Regions from separate parts of the Homo sapiens genome. Here region 2 is linked to region 1. Evidence: fine-mapped expression QTL. Tissue or cell type: whole blood. Region 1 holds a variant in brackets; the other region holds the start of a gene. All regions are shown on one strand. Distances are between the middles of the regions.

The links. PIP is the estimated chance that this variant, and not a neighbour inherited with it, causes the effect.
Region 2: RFTN1 starts here. The variant in region 1 is fine-mapped to the expression of RFTN1 in whole blood (TOPMed, PIP above 0.99).

Annotation. Positions count from the first base shown.
Region 1 is chr3:16,428,701-16,436,807 of GRCh38, reverse strand. RFTN1 (raftlin, lipid raft linker 1) reads left to right here. Exons shown (of 10, transcript NM_015150.2): 3 at 2,771-2,957. Among named protein-coding and RNA genes, the nearest start is that of RFTN1, 81 kb to the left of the region's middle. RefSeq lists a silencer at 2,954-3,083. The variant C/A (reference allele first, on the strand shown) is at 3,100.
Region 2 is chr3:16,508,962-16,517,068 of GRCh38, reverse strand. It overlaps RFTN1 (raftlin, lipid raft linker 1), which reads left to right and starts at 3,370. Exons shown (of 10, transcript NM_015150.2): 1 at 3,370-3,627. RefSeq lists enhancers at 1-83, 84-584, 3,891-3,970, 4,521-4,930, 6,659-6,818 and silencers at 1,155-1,204, 1,812-1,987, 3,141-3,210, 3,241-3,600.

The DNA.
Region 1 (8,107 bases):
GTTTGAAGTAGTGTTTTATACAAATAGATTAATGGATCACAGTCATAAACTCATATTTGGGAATATAATAAATGATAAGTGGCATATGATATATGGCATCTCAAATCAATGAGGAAAAATGGATAAACCCCTGTGGTGGGGGGGTGTTCAATTCATATTGCACACTTTACATGGGATAAATTCCAAATCGATAAAAGATTTATATGCAAAAAATGAAATATGTATTATGGGAATTCACAAGAGAATTGTTTTATAATCCCAGGTCTTTCTGCTATGACACAAAACTCAGAAGCCATTGAAAGCAAGATTGGTAAATTCAGCTTCATTTAAAAAGTTTTTCATGGAATCACTTGAACCCAGGAGGTAGAGTTTGCAGTGAGCGGGGATAGCACCACCGCACTCCAGCCTGGGCAACAGAGAGAGACTTTGTCTTAAAAAAAAAAAAAAAATTTTTTTTTTCATGGCAAAACCCACTATATGCAAAGTCAAAAGGCAAGCAACAAATTGGGGGCAGATACATCAAAAACTAAATTTCCTAATATGTAAAGAGTTCTTACAAACCAATAGAAAAAAAGCCCAATGACTAAATAGGACACGAGGCAAAGATAATGGACAGACAGTTCACAGACAAGGAGACACAGCATTTAAATATGAAATGTTTAATAAGAAAAAATACAAATTACATAATAAGATAAATATAAGTTACCATGTCACAGGGATCTTTTTTTTTCCACTGAGAATTGTCAGAGTATGGGAAAAGAAATAACTTTATACATCACTGATGGCAGATAAATCCATAATACTCTATGGGGGAAATAGCACTAGCTGAAAAAATTACAATGCACACATACATATGTGTGTGATATATATATATATATATATATATATATTTACATCTCTGATTTTTTATTTATTTACTTTTTGTGGGTACATAGTAGGTGTATATATTTATAGGGTACATGAGATGTTTTGATACAGGCACACAATGCATATATTTTTAACCCAGCAATTCCACATCTAGGAATTTATTTTGTATATGTACTATAAGCGCACACATGCAAAATCATGTAGGAATGAGATTTTTCACTAAAAGATTACTTGTAAGAGCAAAAGTTTGCATACTCCATGGTATATCACACAATGGATCTGTAGAAAAGAATGAGAAAGCACTCTGTGTACTGCTATGAAATGGTCTCTTAAGAAAAGTATACTGTTTTGTTTTGTTTTTTTGCTTTTTGAGACGGAGTTTAGCTCTTGTTGCCCAGGCTGGAGTGCAGTGGCGCAATCTCGGCTCACTGCAACCTTCGCCTCCCAGGTTCAAGAGATTCTTCCGCCTCAGCCTCCCGAGTAGCTGGGATTACAGGCATGCACCACCACACCGGACTAATTTTTTATATTTTTAGCAGAGATGGGGTTTCATCATGTTGGCCAGGCTGGTCTCAAACTCCTGACCTCAAGTGATCCGCCTACCTTGGCCTCCCAAAGTGCGGGGATAACAGGCGTGAGCCACTGCCCCTGGCCGAAAAGTATACTGTTAATTGATAAAAATTGATTCTAAAAAGCTAGGTGTGTAATGTTATGCTGACATTTGTGTAGAAGAGGAGGGAAATATATAGACCTGTTCACTTTTGTATGAATTCTTTGATTGTTAATGCATATACACACAAAAAGATAATACTGATTTCCTCTAAGGAAATAAATGTAGGAGGTAGAGGATAGGGCTAGGATGTAGACTTTTCACTGAATACACATTTGTACCTTTTGACTTTTGAACGTTGTTTGCCCTTCTCAAAAATAAATAAATTAAAAATCCAAATTTTAAAATAATTCAATAGGTGAAAATATTCCTGGTTTTTATTTGTGTAATTCTAATGCTGAATTAAAGTGTGTTTTCAAATATTGGTTAGCCTTTTACACTTTTAAGGCAATTGCCTATTCATATATTTTTCCCGTTTAAAAATTATTTTGGGGTGGGGAGTGTTTTGCAAATTTAAGGAAATTAGCCCTTTGTCTTAAGGGTCACAGAAATTTTGTTCCAGTTTGTCTTTTGACTTTGTTTATGCTGCTTTTTGCCACCTAGTATTTTTATATTTGCTCAATGTATTTTTCTTCTTTTCCCTTCCCTTCTTCCTTTCTTTCTTTATTTCTGTGTGTTTTTTTTTAGAGGGTGGAAATGACTTTTTCATTGTGATCACTGATAAGACGACTCTAGATCTAAGACAGTCCATTATTATTTTATTTTATTTCATTTTTGAGACAGTGGCTTGCTCTGTTGCCCAGGCTAGAGTGCAGTGGCCCTATCATGGCTCACTGCAAACCTCCCCATTTCCAGCTCAAGCGATCTTCCCACCTCAGCCTCCTGAGTAGCCAGGACCACAAGCACTGGCTAATTTTGAGGGGGTTTTTTTGTTTTTGTTTGTTTGTTTGTTTGTTTGTTTGTTTGTTTAAGAGAGACCGAGTTTTACTATGTTGCCCAGGCTGGTCTCAAACTTCTCGGCTCAAGCGATCCATCTGCCTCGGCCTCTCAGAGTGCTGGGATTATAGGCCTGAGCCATCACGCCTGGCCGACATCCAATTATTAATGCCTTTGGGTGATTTGGAAAACGACAGGCTGCTTATAAAGTCTGTTTGAAGACAGTAAAAACTGGGACAAACTCATTTTAGCAGTGACCTAGAGGATCCTCCCCGAGGGCAAGGGAAGAGGGGTTTGGGCAGGGCTGAGTGGGCGTTGTGATGGGTCTTTGATGAGCCTCTCCTCTCTCCACTCCAGCGGAGCTCCCTGGGTCCTCAGCAGTGAGGCTGGCCTCCCTGCGTGACCTGCCCGCCCAGCTCCTGGAGCTGTACCAGCAGGGCTTCTCGCTGGCGGCCCTGCACCCCTTCGTGCAGCCCACCCATGAGCGGGAGAAGACGCCCCTGGAGCACATCTTTAGAGCCATCCTGATCAAGAAAACCGACAGGTAAGGCCTCCACGGGTGAATGGGTAGCATCCTGTTGCGGCTAAGTTATGCTCAATAGAGGAGGGGAAGTGAGAGGATGGGGTTGGGGGTTGAAATTTGCATGCTGTCCTCAGGGCCTCAGCCCTCAGACAGGTGAGGCAAA[C/A]AGTTAGACAACCAGAGAGGTTTCTTTCCTAGCATCCTGCGATGAAAAACAAATGCATGTCCAACTGCAAGTAGAGAGTTCCATTTTACATTCTTTCCCTCTTTTAACTCACTGGATTAAACTCAGCTAGAAAAATGTCTCCTCAGAAGAAGCATATGCCCAGAATGATGTGGCTAGTAAAAGTGCAATACTTTTAAACTGAAAGGCATGACTGGAAAACAAATAATTTTGTTTAGAGGCTATAGACAAACTTAATGTCTTCCCGCAAAGTCTAGAAATACTTTAACATTTTGCGCCTACCATAAATTCTGTCAATCACTTGACAGTTAAAAAAATACAAAAAATAAACACCACCTAAATAAAATGCTATAATTGGTTTGGTCTTGATTTAGATTTTCAGGGCTTGGGGATGTTTTTCAGTTTGGCTTGCCCAGTTGAATGCTTATGCCTATATTTCAGTTGAGCCTAATTAAGAAAAGAGAAGTGGGGTTAGTCTTTCAAAAGGAACAATATTAATTTTTTTAAAAAAAAAAAACAGTGAGGATGGGATGGAGAGAGCAGTATGTTTTTCCTGCTTTCATAAAAATAAAAATTAAAATGAAGTCTGGGAAAGGAAATCAGATTTGTCTTTTGGCCAACTATCATAGAAGGAATGACAGCATGTGCCACATTTTAAAAAGGGAGTACAGAGCAGCTCCTCCTTGTTCTCTCCTTTTAAAGTCACTTTGCAGGTAGACAAAGCATTTGGCTGGTGTGCTCATAAGGGACAGCTGTGAGGCATGAGGTTGCGTGTCTAAGACTGACTCCTCTTTCCTTTCCTTTCCTTTATTTCTTCATGGTTGATCAAGCTCTGGGGCTCTTACTCTACATCAACACACATTACGTCAACACACATTAGAATTCAAAGTGAAAGGTGGTGCATGTTTTTGCTCGAACCCAGAATTCACACATGTTTTGGTAGGGCAAGACTTTTCTCAGTGTCTGCCTTTTATGTGTATTAGTTTGTCTTTCTCTCTCTCTCTCTTTTTTTTTTCTGTAGAAACAAGGTCTCGCTATGTTGCCTAGGCTGATCTTGAAATCCTGGCCTCAAGCGATCCTCCCACCTTGGCCTCCCAAACCACTGGGATTATGGGTGTGAGCCACTGAGCCTGGCTGCATATTGGTTTCTTTTCTTTTCTTTTTTATTTCCTTGAGATGGGGTCTCACTCTGTCACCCAGGCTGGAGCACAGTGGCATGATCTCAGCTCACTGCAACCTTTGCCTCTCAGGCTTAAGCCATCCTCCCACCTCAGCCTCCCAGGTAACTGGGACTACAGGTGCACGCCACCATGCCTGGCTAATTTTTTTATTTTGGGTAGAGACCGGGTTTCGCCATGTTGCCTAGACTGGTCTGGAACTTCTGGGCTCAAGAGAGTTTCCCACATAGGCCTCTCAAAGTGCTGGGATTAGAGGTGTGAGCCACCACGCCCAGTCCATTATTGGTTCCTTTAGGTTGATTGGCTGTTGATCATTATCTGGGTCAATCATGAGAAGATTGGGGGCCACAGTGGTTTTGAGTGACACTGACACATAGGATATGTATAATGACAGTAGCTTATATTTAGTGAGCACTCACTGTATGTGAGGCTTGATCATTATCATTTCATCTGTATCATATGGCTATGAAATAAGTGTCATCTTTGTTCCCATTTTAAAGGTGAGAAAACTGAGACACAAATGTTGAGTTGTCAAGGTCACACGGATGGCAGCAAGCAGAGTTCTGCCTTGCTCCCAGGAAGGCTGTCTCCCGTACCTGCATTCTTAATCCTGGCATGAAGCACGTGCTGAGTTCCTTTACCCACAATTCTTGTGGAGAACCACTTTAGGAAAAGAAAGTGGGGGAGGATATCTTTGATCTTCCATAAAGAAGTACTTTTATTACTCAACCTTTCCCCCATTTTACCCCTCAGTAGTCAGTAAGTAAATCAGAATTTCAGCAAGGAAACAAAACAGACAAATGAGTTGTATGGATTCTATAAGGCATCCACTGGGCTCCAGGGATTCTATTCTGCAGATTATCCGAGTGGCCTTAGTGTTTAAAGGAGACAAGTCCATTTGGGTCAGATCACTGGCACATCCTTCAGTGTGATCTGCCATAGGCGGTGACATGAGCTCAGGACTTGGCCTGAGCTTAACTCAAAAAGTGAAGGTGTATCTTTTTTTTTTTTTCTCCCTGCTGTGGAGCAACACTTCTCAAACTTTAATGTGCTTGTGAGTCTCCTGGGGATATGGTTAAAGAGCAGAGTCTGATATAGCAGGTCTCAGGGGAGGCCTGGGACTCTACATTTCTAACTTGTTTCCAGATGGGGCAGATGCTGATGGTCCGTGGCACGCACTTTGAGTAGCAAGTGTGTGGAGGACCTAATTCTTGCCTGGCTTCATGCCTGGCACTCAGCAACACTATTGGGGCTTGCCACTTTACTCCTAGGAGAGCTGTAAGCACCAGGCTAGGTAAGAAAGAACACAGAACTCGTGGCCAGGAGGCCTGCGTTCTAGGCTGCACTTGGCTACTAGTAAGCAGTGTCGTGCAAGGGGCACATCGATGGATCTTTCTCGGCCTCCGTATTCTAGCTGCTACAATGAGGGGCTGTTACTACATGATTTGCAAGGCTTGCACCAAACTCTAAGTTATCTGATGGGACAAGATGGGTGAGGAAGCCCGTCTTCAGAAATAAGAACCACCACTTTGGGGAATAGTGCATTATAAGCCAGCAGTGAAGCTGGGGGCTCAGTAGGGGTTGTTTACTTCCACTAACGTAGCATGAACAAATGAACTTACTTTCCAGAAGACAAAAATGAGCAAACTGTTGAGAGGAATGAGACTTTGTATGCAGGAGGGTTTTCAAGAAAGGGAAGTTGGCAGTCTCCTTGGGTTTGAGCTGACTTTCATCCAGAGTTCCTGAACTGCCTGCCTGATGAACTTAATGAACATTTCAACTCCTGGACAAGCAGATCCAGAGAAGGAAATTCCTTAGGTAACTTTGTGTTGAGTCTTTGGAACTGCCTTTTTTAAAAAAATGCAAAAGTTTGATAATTTATCATGTAAAATGAGGCAAAAATGATCAAGAGGATCATCCCCACTTCTAGCCCCAATGGTATTAGGTGGGAGGAGTGGTGGAGGTTGGAAGCAGTCATTGTAAAATATAATTTTAAAGTACAGGAATTTTCTCTCCTAGCAAATGCAATAACTGCATTTTTTTTGTATTATGGGGAAAAGACTCCAACGATCTTAAAAATAAGCAAACAAAAAAACATCAAGGCCAGGTGCAGTGGCTCACACCTATAATCCCAGCACTTTGGGAGACCAAGGCAGAAGATTCTCTTGAGCTCAGAAGTTCCAGACCAGCCTGGGCAAAGTAGAGAGACCTAGTAGCTACTAAAAATTTTAAAAATTAGCTGGGTGTAGTGGCGCACGCCTGTAGTCCCAGCTACCCGGGAGGCTGAGGTGGGAGGATTACTTGAGCCCACGAGCTGGAGGCTCCTGGGATGTGACTGTGTTATTGCACTTCAGCCTGGGTGACAGAATGAGATCCTGTCTCAAGAAACAACAACAACAAAAAAAAAACGGACTTTTTCTTTATCAATAGGGAGTTTAAGTAGTAAAAACAAAACAAAGGAAGACTTTTGTGATTAATTTTTAATTCAGACAGTTAAAGTGATACTTTTCACAAAGTCTGCCAAAGTTCTGACAGTTATAGATGCTGTTAAATGAAATGAGTTAGCTTTTAAAAGAGAAAGAAATACTTGGTTAATATTTTTCAAGTGGAGCACATTGAAAGAGATGTAGATACACATTCTAGATTATTGTTGACCCAAGTGAACTTCATTACCAAGAATCACCATGAGATGACTCTGTGAAACTTCGATATCAACCTAATGTGTTTGGAGGGTTCACATAAAATTTTTAACAAATAACTGGGCTTTGGGATATGCCAGAAACACCAGACGGAACCCCTCAAGCCTGCATTTATCCCCTCACTCATTCACTAACACTTGCTGAGTGAGTACTCTTTTCAGAGTATTGTGCTAGGAGCTCTATGTGGTGGGAAGTTAGAGAGTGCAAATGCCAGGCTCAGTTGAATGTGGAGCCTGCCTTCCAAGCACTTGCAGTCTAATTAAGTAAATGAGATATGTGCCTCATGCCACAGGAGTTTGGGAGAAGGAGATGCCACCTCTCACTGGAAGGGAAACCAAGGAAATGTTTCTGGAGGGGCAGCTTTTAACTTGGGCCTGATTTCTTTTGGGCAAACATGGGGAGTAATGAGCATGAGGCAGGAAGAGTTTATTTAAATCTCCTAATGAAATGTTTTCTAGTAGTATTTGAGTAATTGGAGAGCATCGTTGACAGTCTAACTAAATTATTAATGAGTCATTCCAAAAGTAGTTCTCAAGTGCAGTAACATTCCTCTGAGCTCACTGCCATTTTGACAGATTTCACTTACATCCCTGAAAAATTACCTGATCTTTTCTTCTGAAAATTCTAATAACTGCCATTTCATTTTACCATGGCAGGCCTAGCCACACATCTAACTGTAAACTGTTCTTAATTCTAAGTGTATTGAATTTAGTCAAGTCAGTTACTTTGACTCAAGTTACTTTGACTCAAGAATGAATAGCTGAATATGAAATACTTAGTGAATAAGTAGAAAGAGAGTTTGTACTTCATTTTCTCAACTCTTTCTTTGGAACACTTAGTGATTTTTAATAGACAATATAGTTGCACTCACTCTGAATTCTAAGTATAGTTAAGTGATCCTTCATTTTTTTCAAGTAGTTTTCCTTAGAATGAGTTGCTAAAGATCTTGAAACTTGATGGCTAACAGAAGTCAGTTATTAAAACGTCACTTCTGATGTTTCATGAGTGTGGGTTTAATTCTAGGTTGTTTTATGGTTATAGATGTAACTGCAGTACAAAAATGCATGGTGCTGGCCATTTTTCAGCTGTTGAATTGTCGTTGTACACACATGG
Region 2 (8,107 bases), 80 kb before region 1:
GAGTCAAAAGCATGTTTTGGCACAAGTGTACTCTGCTTTAACGTGGCCAAGGGTGCCATGGTCTTCCTAGGGGCGTGCCTGTGCAGGCTGTGCCTGTCACCATGAACAAAGGGCAGGGGCCTCCTCCAAAACCACTGGCTTGGGGCACAGAGCTCAGGCCCCTGCCACCGTGGCTCCTTACAGGCACGATTGTCACCGGATGCAGGGCCAGCTTCCTATAACTGTTTAGTACAGAGCAGCTGGCCAAACTGTGAGCTCACTGTGGCTGCAAACCCATTAAAATATTAACTGTGATGATAAAGATGAATAATTATTGCACCTCCAGGGCATAGATAAGTCTAGTTCTGTCTCCCACCAGCCCTGAAACTCTGCTGTTCAGCTGGCGAGTGTAAGGTCTGGGTTTCGTGGTCCTGTACATAAACAATTAGGACAATAGCTCTTCAGGTTCCAAAGCTTTTGTTTGATCCATTTCTGCTATGAACTGTGATTACTCTCTGCAGAGAGGGGGAATTGAATTATTTTGGGCTAAGTTAGGAGCAGGGTGGACCTAAGTGAAGTGAAATTGTGGGGATGGGGTCTGGTGGGAAGAAGGTGAGCAGAATAGGTTAGCTGGGATTCTCCTTCCCTCCAAGCCTCAGCATAGTTAGGATGCAGCGAAATTGCTCCGGCTGCTGGTACCCATGGCCTTAATCATCTCCAGAGTGGGGTGGTGCTGCTGAGGCCAAGAAAGAATTATTCCAGCGGGGGGTTCCTTTAACTGAGCTTTTACAAGAATCGTGCAGTCTGGCCACAGCAGCTTCTTACACTTGCCTAGGCTGGCTTAACTCCTCTTCTTTCCACAGGGGGTGTGAGGAGATCCAGCTTCCCCATTAGCTTGGGACCTGCGTCTTATTGACTGTGAACACTCGGGACCCCAGTTCTGGGGCCATCTGTGACCTGTCATGCAGTAATAGCTTGGTTTTTCCCGTGTTCAGCTCCTCCCCGAGTACTTAGTGTTAAATCACAGGGGGAGGAAGTGTGAGCAGAGAAAAAACAGCACTATTACATGACCCCCGATGAGACCGCTGTGATAGAATTAAAAGCTGCCGCCCTAGGACATTCTAACAGATGACATTGTGAGGTTGCCAAGGTAACCCACTAGGATACAGTCCCAGCATCTTTGGGGTTGGGGCTGGGTAGGCAAGGTCAGTTAGAAGTGAGACCCAGCTGCCCAGGGTCTCTCCCATGGCTGGCCAGTCCATAGCAGTCAAGTGGAAAATCCAGGCAGCTCTCTACAGAACACAAGTGAATCCAACATTTGGCTCCTCATTAAATATTCCAGGTGAAAGAGAATTGGAACACCCTGGATAATTGCTGAATGCAGGTTAAGAAGAGCCTTGAAAGATCTGCATGCTATTGGCTCATCCACTCATTCCACACATATTTACTGAACACCTACTATGTGCCAGTAGGAAGCATCAGAATATCAAGAAGATCAGGAGTTCTAGAAAACCCTCAAAAATGCAGATCCAAGCAGGGAAAAAAGTCATTTAAGACATTTGCCCATGATTATTAGCACTCGGGAAAATATTGAGTGGAAGAAAATGGAAGCAATCAGAATAGCATATTAACCTCAAGCACTGGTGTCTTAAAAAAAAAAAGCACAAAAAACACAACGGTGTGCAAAAGTTTTATAGAGTGAAAATGATTTGCTTAAAAGAAATCAAGCACACTGCAACTAGGTTATGCTGCATTCCCCCACCCCCACCCTCCTTTTTCCTTTATCTTCTTTTAAATGCCTACCGGTTAACACCTATCAATTTTATTTTCTTTCTGTGGCCTAGTGACCAGCAAAGGATCAGAAAGATTTTGGATGGACCCTGACTTGCAGCAATTCAAGGCCTCGGGCAGATAGATAGCATGAAGACCCCTCCCTTTGGCTTCATAAATGGGTGTTCACAACCTCTGGTGATGCCCCTGAGCAAATGTCCCTGCGCACTACTGTCTGAACCTGGACTTACGTGGTCACCTGGTCTTATTTTCTTTCATGTGGCAAGCTCAAGTGTAGGGGGGAAATGGGGGACACTGGGGATAGTGGTGGTGAGTGTGACACCAGGAAAAGGTGGGGTGGAAAGGGAAAGGAGAAAAACAAATAAAAACAAAACAGTGGTGAGGGAGGGGGAGCAAAACAGAACTAGAAAGGCTATGGAAAGAGAAAATAAGGAAGAAAATCTCTGAGAAGCTGTGGTAACAGGAAGAGTCCCTGAAAACAAAATAGTGCTTCCTTACTTGCTGGAGGAGTGTTATTAGTGCCAGAAGGACCTCATCGAAACACTGCTGGGCCCCTAAACCAGCCCTCCACCCTGTGTGCTCCAGTGCTTAACTTTGCCCACACAGGGTCTTCTTTGCCCAATTAGAAAATGGAGATAATTAATTAAATTATCTCACCCTTCTTGTTCTAGCCCCCTTAAAATAATGATAATAGCTAAGTTATAGAGTGGTTGCTAAACACTTTACATATAATAACCCACGAAGAAGTGCCATGTGACAAATAGGCGCAGAGCAGTTAAGTCACTTACCCAAAGTCACACAGCCAGTAAGTACTAAAGCCAGGAATCCAACCCTGATTATTTGACTTTAAAGTTCCCCCTCTTAACCCCTACACTGTAATTCTGCTTGGTTTAGTTTTACGAAGAAAATATTTTCTAATGGCTCCTTGCCTCACATCTTCACTTTACTAATGCAGCCTGGTTTACTAGTGCTTCACTCTTTATATAATTTTCTCCCTGGGTGCCTCAAGTTGCCACGCAAGGTGATTCTCCAGATCTTCTCAAACCTCTGGACATCTTAAGTAGGTAGACCAAGGGATGGCAACGGAGACAGTGGCATTACCCTTCCCTGAAGCACTAACTCGCAAGAGAGAATTTCAGCAGCACCTGAGATGTTTAGGGATGCTCCCACCTGTGGAATGGGGTCGAGAAATGGTCCTCTCTCAAGTCGGCCCCAACCCCACCCCCAGCCATCAGCACCTTGATGGCAGTCGCCCTTTCAGCATCCTGGCTCAAATCTTGAAGGATCCTTGTCTCCCAGGCGCTCTTCCTGACAGCACACAACCTTGATTAGGAGGGGCTGGGAGGGAGGATCGATGAGCCCCTGACCCCTGGGTTCTGAGGCTGCCAGGGTCGCTTGCAGCTCGGCCGCGTGGAGGTGACCGGGCGGAACTCCGAGGGGGCGCGGGGAGAGCTGGGCGGGCCCACCGCTCCAGCGGCTGCTGTCAGGGGCCGCGAGGCTTTCCCTGAAGATGCAGCGTAGCATATTTTGCACATGAGTTCAGAGGAAGAGGAAGTGTAGCCGGCGGACGCGCGGCGGCGGCGGCGGGGGCGCGTCGGGGCTGGAGCCGGAGCGCGCCGGGCGCTGGGCGCAGCGAGCGAGAGCGCGGCGGCCGCGGGCTCCGGCGAGGGACAGACGCACCGATCGCCGGAGGGACAGACACACGACCACGCGGCGCCACCGCCCACGCCTCCACCCACCGGCGCCCAAGTCCTCCCCGCGCCGCCTCCTCTGTATGGCACAAACTTTCCTCCCGGGACGGAACACGCTGCCTCAGGGAGCCCGCGACCGCGCCTTCTCCTCCGCCGGTCCCATACGGTAGGCGGCGGGGGGGGCGCGACAGGGCTTGGGGTGTCGACCGGCACAGGCCCCTCCGTTTGGCCCCATGGACCGGGTCTCTGGCGGGTAGTGGGAACCGCGCGTGGCGCCTCCCTGCAGGTTGCTCTTTGCCGGGGCTCCGGAGCTGCCAGAGCAGCACCCCCTGGCCCGCGTCGGATGGGGACCTGGGCTGATCCTTGGGACGCCTGGATCTTGGGCCAACTTTTTTTTGCGGGGAACGGGTGTAGGGGAGTCATTCCTGGAGCGATGTAGGGAGAGGCACTTCGGAGCAGCCTGTTGGGGGTCGTAGGCTCTGCAGGCTCAGAAGCGCCTAGGAAGGACGCAGAGGTGGGGGAGCTTGGAGGCTACAGGTGGGTCCAGGACACACTGCCGCTGGGGTCCTCGGAAAAGAACAGGAGGGAGCTGGTCGCGGAGTCCAGGTTTCCGGGGTGCGCGCGGCCTGGGTGGGGCAGGGTGGAGGCGGTGCCTGACTGCCCCTCTGCGTGTGCCCTGGGAGGTGGGTTTGCTCTGGGGACAGAGGTGCTGGACGTGTAGGAGCAGACATGCCGCGCGCTCCGAGGAAGCGCCGGAACCACCAGAAGCACAGGGACGCGGGTGCCGAGAGTCCCCAGCACTGAAAACGGGGATCTCCTCTTCTGTAAGGGATTTTCTTCCCTTGTCTTAACCCACTTCTCTAGACTCAAGGGACGCCAGGATGGATATGGGTCTGGGCGAGGAGGAGGTGGTTGTGTATTTCGGGAAGCCCCGTTGTCAGGCACGCGCACCCCAGTCCTAGGCCAGGGCTGGTGCCCTTCACCTCCGGTGTCGCTGCCTTTGGCAGCAAGAACCGCGTGGAGGCCAAGGTTGTAGAACCAGGCACGCTCCCTGCTGTCTGTCTGTGACTCTGTGCTTGCCCTCAGCTGCCCTGTGTGGTTATGGGTGATCCCTAGGGACGCTGGGTGGTGTCAGTGAGTTTCTTCGGGGGCTTAAAACAAACAAACAAGAAGTACTTTTTTAAAAAAAAAGTCTGGCTCAATCTCTGTCAGTGGTCACCCCAGTTTCCAGCAACTCATGTGCTGGAACCCTTGTAGTCGGTACAGCTGTTTCAGGAGCTGGGCGCTCAACTAGACTAGGCATCTTCCAACCCCTGCCATCGTGTGTCATCTCAGGATAAGTTAAGGCCTTGCCAGGAAGGAAGCCGGGTGTAATGTGAGCGACCTCTGGGCCTGTGGGTAGGGCCTCTCTGCTGCCGGGATTCCTAATTTGTATCTCTGAACAGCTGAATCCCAACGAAGTTCAAGTGACCCCAGATGTCACCAAACCCCAGAGAGGGGTTACGAAGCAAGCTGTTTGGGACTCTTTGGTGCGTGTGTGCTAACCTCAGTGAAATCACTCTAACCTCAGACTGAGCTCTGCATCCTCTTTTGCCTTCAGTGGGGTTTCTGGCCCGCCTGAGTGATTCAAAGCCCCAGAGCTGGCACGTCATCCTCTGGCTGCATTTGTATATCAAGTCACTGGGTTGGTTTTTCTTTGTTTGCTTTTTGGCTGTATGGACATGGGGCAAATGGAAGTGGAGTGTTGTGCAGTTAGCTAGTAGATTTGGTACAGGAATTGAAAGATAATAAATTGGGAATACAAGTCAGTGAGTTCTTTTTCTCCCTCTTGAGCAGGAATTTTTGGCTTACATTCAAATAATTGCTTTGTCTGTAGGGAAACAAGCAGAAAATCTTTGGCATGAGTGATGTGAGTTCCTGTAAAGCTACTTATGTTCTTCCAGTCTTCTCTTTTCAGCAGAATTGAAACTATGTGGTCCCATGGCTTGGTGGGGCATGGTGCTTTGCCAAATTTCTAACTTGGTGGACTAAGGAGAGGACACTGTGACTCTATCCCCATCCCATTTTTTAAGATATAGAAAAGTTGCAAGAACAGTGACCCCCTAAATATACACACCTAGAGTCTAATTCACATTTTGCCATCTTTGCTTAACTACACACCTCCCCCAACCATCCAGCCATCCCTGTGTCCATCCATAAGTCCAGCTGATGGTTTTATGCACTTTAAAGTAAATTACAGATGTTGGTACAGGTCATTCCTAAACATTTTAGTACACATTTTATTATTTTGACTTCAATATGTGCTTATGGTTTCCTTAAGATAAAATTTATATACATATAGTGAAATGTGCAAAGATGGAAAGTACCATTTGCATAATGTTTTGACAGATGCATGCACCTGTGTAACCCTAGTCCTTATCAAGACAGAGAATATTACTGTCACCCCAGCAGGTGCCTTCATCCTCATTCTCAGTCATTCTCTGCCCTCACCCTCTCAGTGGCAACCACTGCCCTGTATCTCATCATAGGTGAGTTTGGCTTGTTCTTGAACTTCATGTAAATGGAATTCTGCAATATTGTGTAAAGCTCACCATATTTTTGAGATTCATCCATGTCGTATCCATGATTTGGTCTTTTTTTATTGCTGACTTATGTTCCGGAGTATGTCTTACTCCACAGTTTGTTTGTATATTCTGTTAATGGATACATGGATTATTTTAGTTTCTTTCTTCTAGTTTCTTTCTTTCTTTCTTTGGTTATTGTGAACAAAGCTGCCGTGAACATTTGTGTACAAGTCTCTGTAGGGACATGTGTTCTCATTTCTCATGGGTAAACACCTAGTAGTAAATTGCTGGGTCAAAAAGGAGATATATGGAAACCTGAAAAGAAACTGCCAGACCTTTTCCCAACATGGTTATACCATTTTACAGTCTCACCAGCAAAGAATACAAGTATGAGATTCCAGATACTACAGCCCTGTCTTTCCTATCCTAAAGTCAAGAGCATGGTTTGACTAGTGTTCTTCTGGGGCCAGAGGGAATCTGAGGCAGTGGGGAACATGTTTTTATAGGTGGAGGGGCCATAGGAAGTCCCTGACTCTGCCTGAAAATGGGTTTAAACTTAAATCATTGCAGACGATCAGATGAATATTTTATTTTTAGAGATTTTCAGAGAAGGGAATTCCATAGGGGAATGTACCCTTGGTTGTGAAAGAAGATTGATTGAGTGCTTTCTATAAAAAGAAAAATAACCCCAAGCCCCACAGAATTTTACTAAGCTTCTGCCTAGAAACTCCCGGGGGATTTCTGGTCTATTGGTAGGGTTGATATTAACTTGGTGGAGAGTCCCCTTGGATTTCACCGGCTTGGTCAGCCGGCTACTGAAAGGGGTTGTGTTTATTTTGAGGGGCAGGTCAGATTTGGCTTTGTTAAGACTCAGAGAATGACTCTCTTGTGAAAGTGATCTGGCCTCTCAGTGAGAAACATGGCCTGTCAACACCCCTCTTATTGTCCTGACTGGGAAAATGGGCCTGTGCCCCTCGGGTCCCCTAATAACTTAGTCCCTCTCTGTGGTGCCAACAGCCAAAGCTTGCCTTGGCTGATCTAGGAAACGGGAAGTGAACTTTTCTGTCTGAGTGGGACCCCAGGATGCATGTTTTGCATCCCATCAAGGTGTCCCAGGGCTGACCAAGCTTTGCAGGAGTCAGATGGCAGACAGCTCAGTCTTGAGACATTGCACTGTGTTTGGGGACTGTTCCCTCCTCCTTAAAAGCCTAGCGCAGTGCCTGCCAGAGGGTAGGGACACAGTAAACATTGGCTGAGTGATTTCGTGACTCGTGATACCCATCTGGGTGATCGCCTCTCTGGAGGTTGACAGTGGGTGTCAAGATGTCAGGGCCCCAGGATGTATTTTACTCGAGGGCACTTTACCATGGCTTGGAAAACACATTCAAAGGGTTTGGGCCTAGGAAAATTTTGTTCAGTGTAAACTTTCATTGTATTAACACTGTTCTCTTTATTACTGATTTTAATATTGTTAATAAAATACAAATAATTATAGCTGCCACTTGCTGAGTGCTTACCCTTTGCCAGGCACTGTTGTACATTTTGCACGCATTATCTGAATTTAATCCTCATGAGAGGCGAGTACTTATATTATCTTCACTTCAGCCCTGAGGAAATTGAAGCTTGCAAGGTTAACTTTCCCTAAGTTCACGTTTTCATTTTTCTAAGACCTTAAGGGAAGAGACTGTGACATTCTGGTTTTTTGAAGGCAAAATCTGTCTACAATCACGGATTTCCAAATACACAAAGCCATATTATAATAGAAATGTAAATTAGATAATCAGAACAGCGTTACAGGAAATGATACACTGCAATCATTTTCTTTAGTTTTTTTTTGTTGTTGTTTGTTTGTTTTCATTTTGTCTTAAGCTTACTGAGTTTGGCACAGCCAGGGGCTTATACTAATTTTGATGATAATTTAAAATATTATTGGTTGATTAGGATTACAATTTTATTGAAGGAACAGAAAGACGTTGCCAGCTGAACTGTTCAATACAGTAGCCACTAGTTACATGTGGCTATTTACATTTAAATGTAATGAATTAAAAGAAAAGAAAATTTAAAATTCAGTCCTTCCGTCTC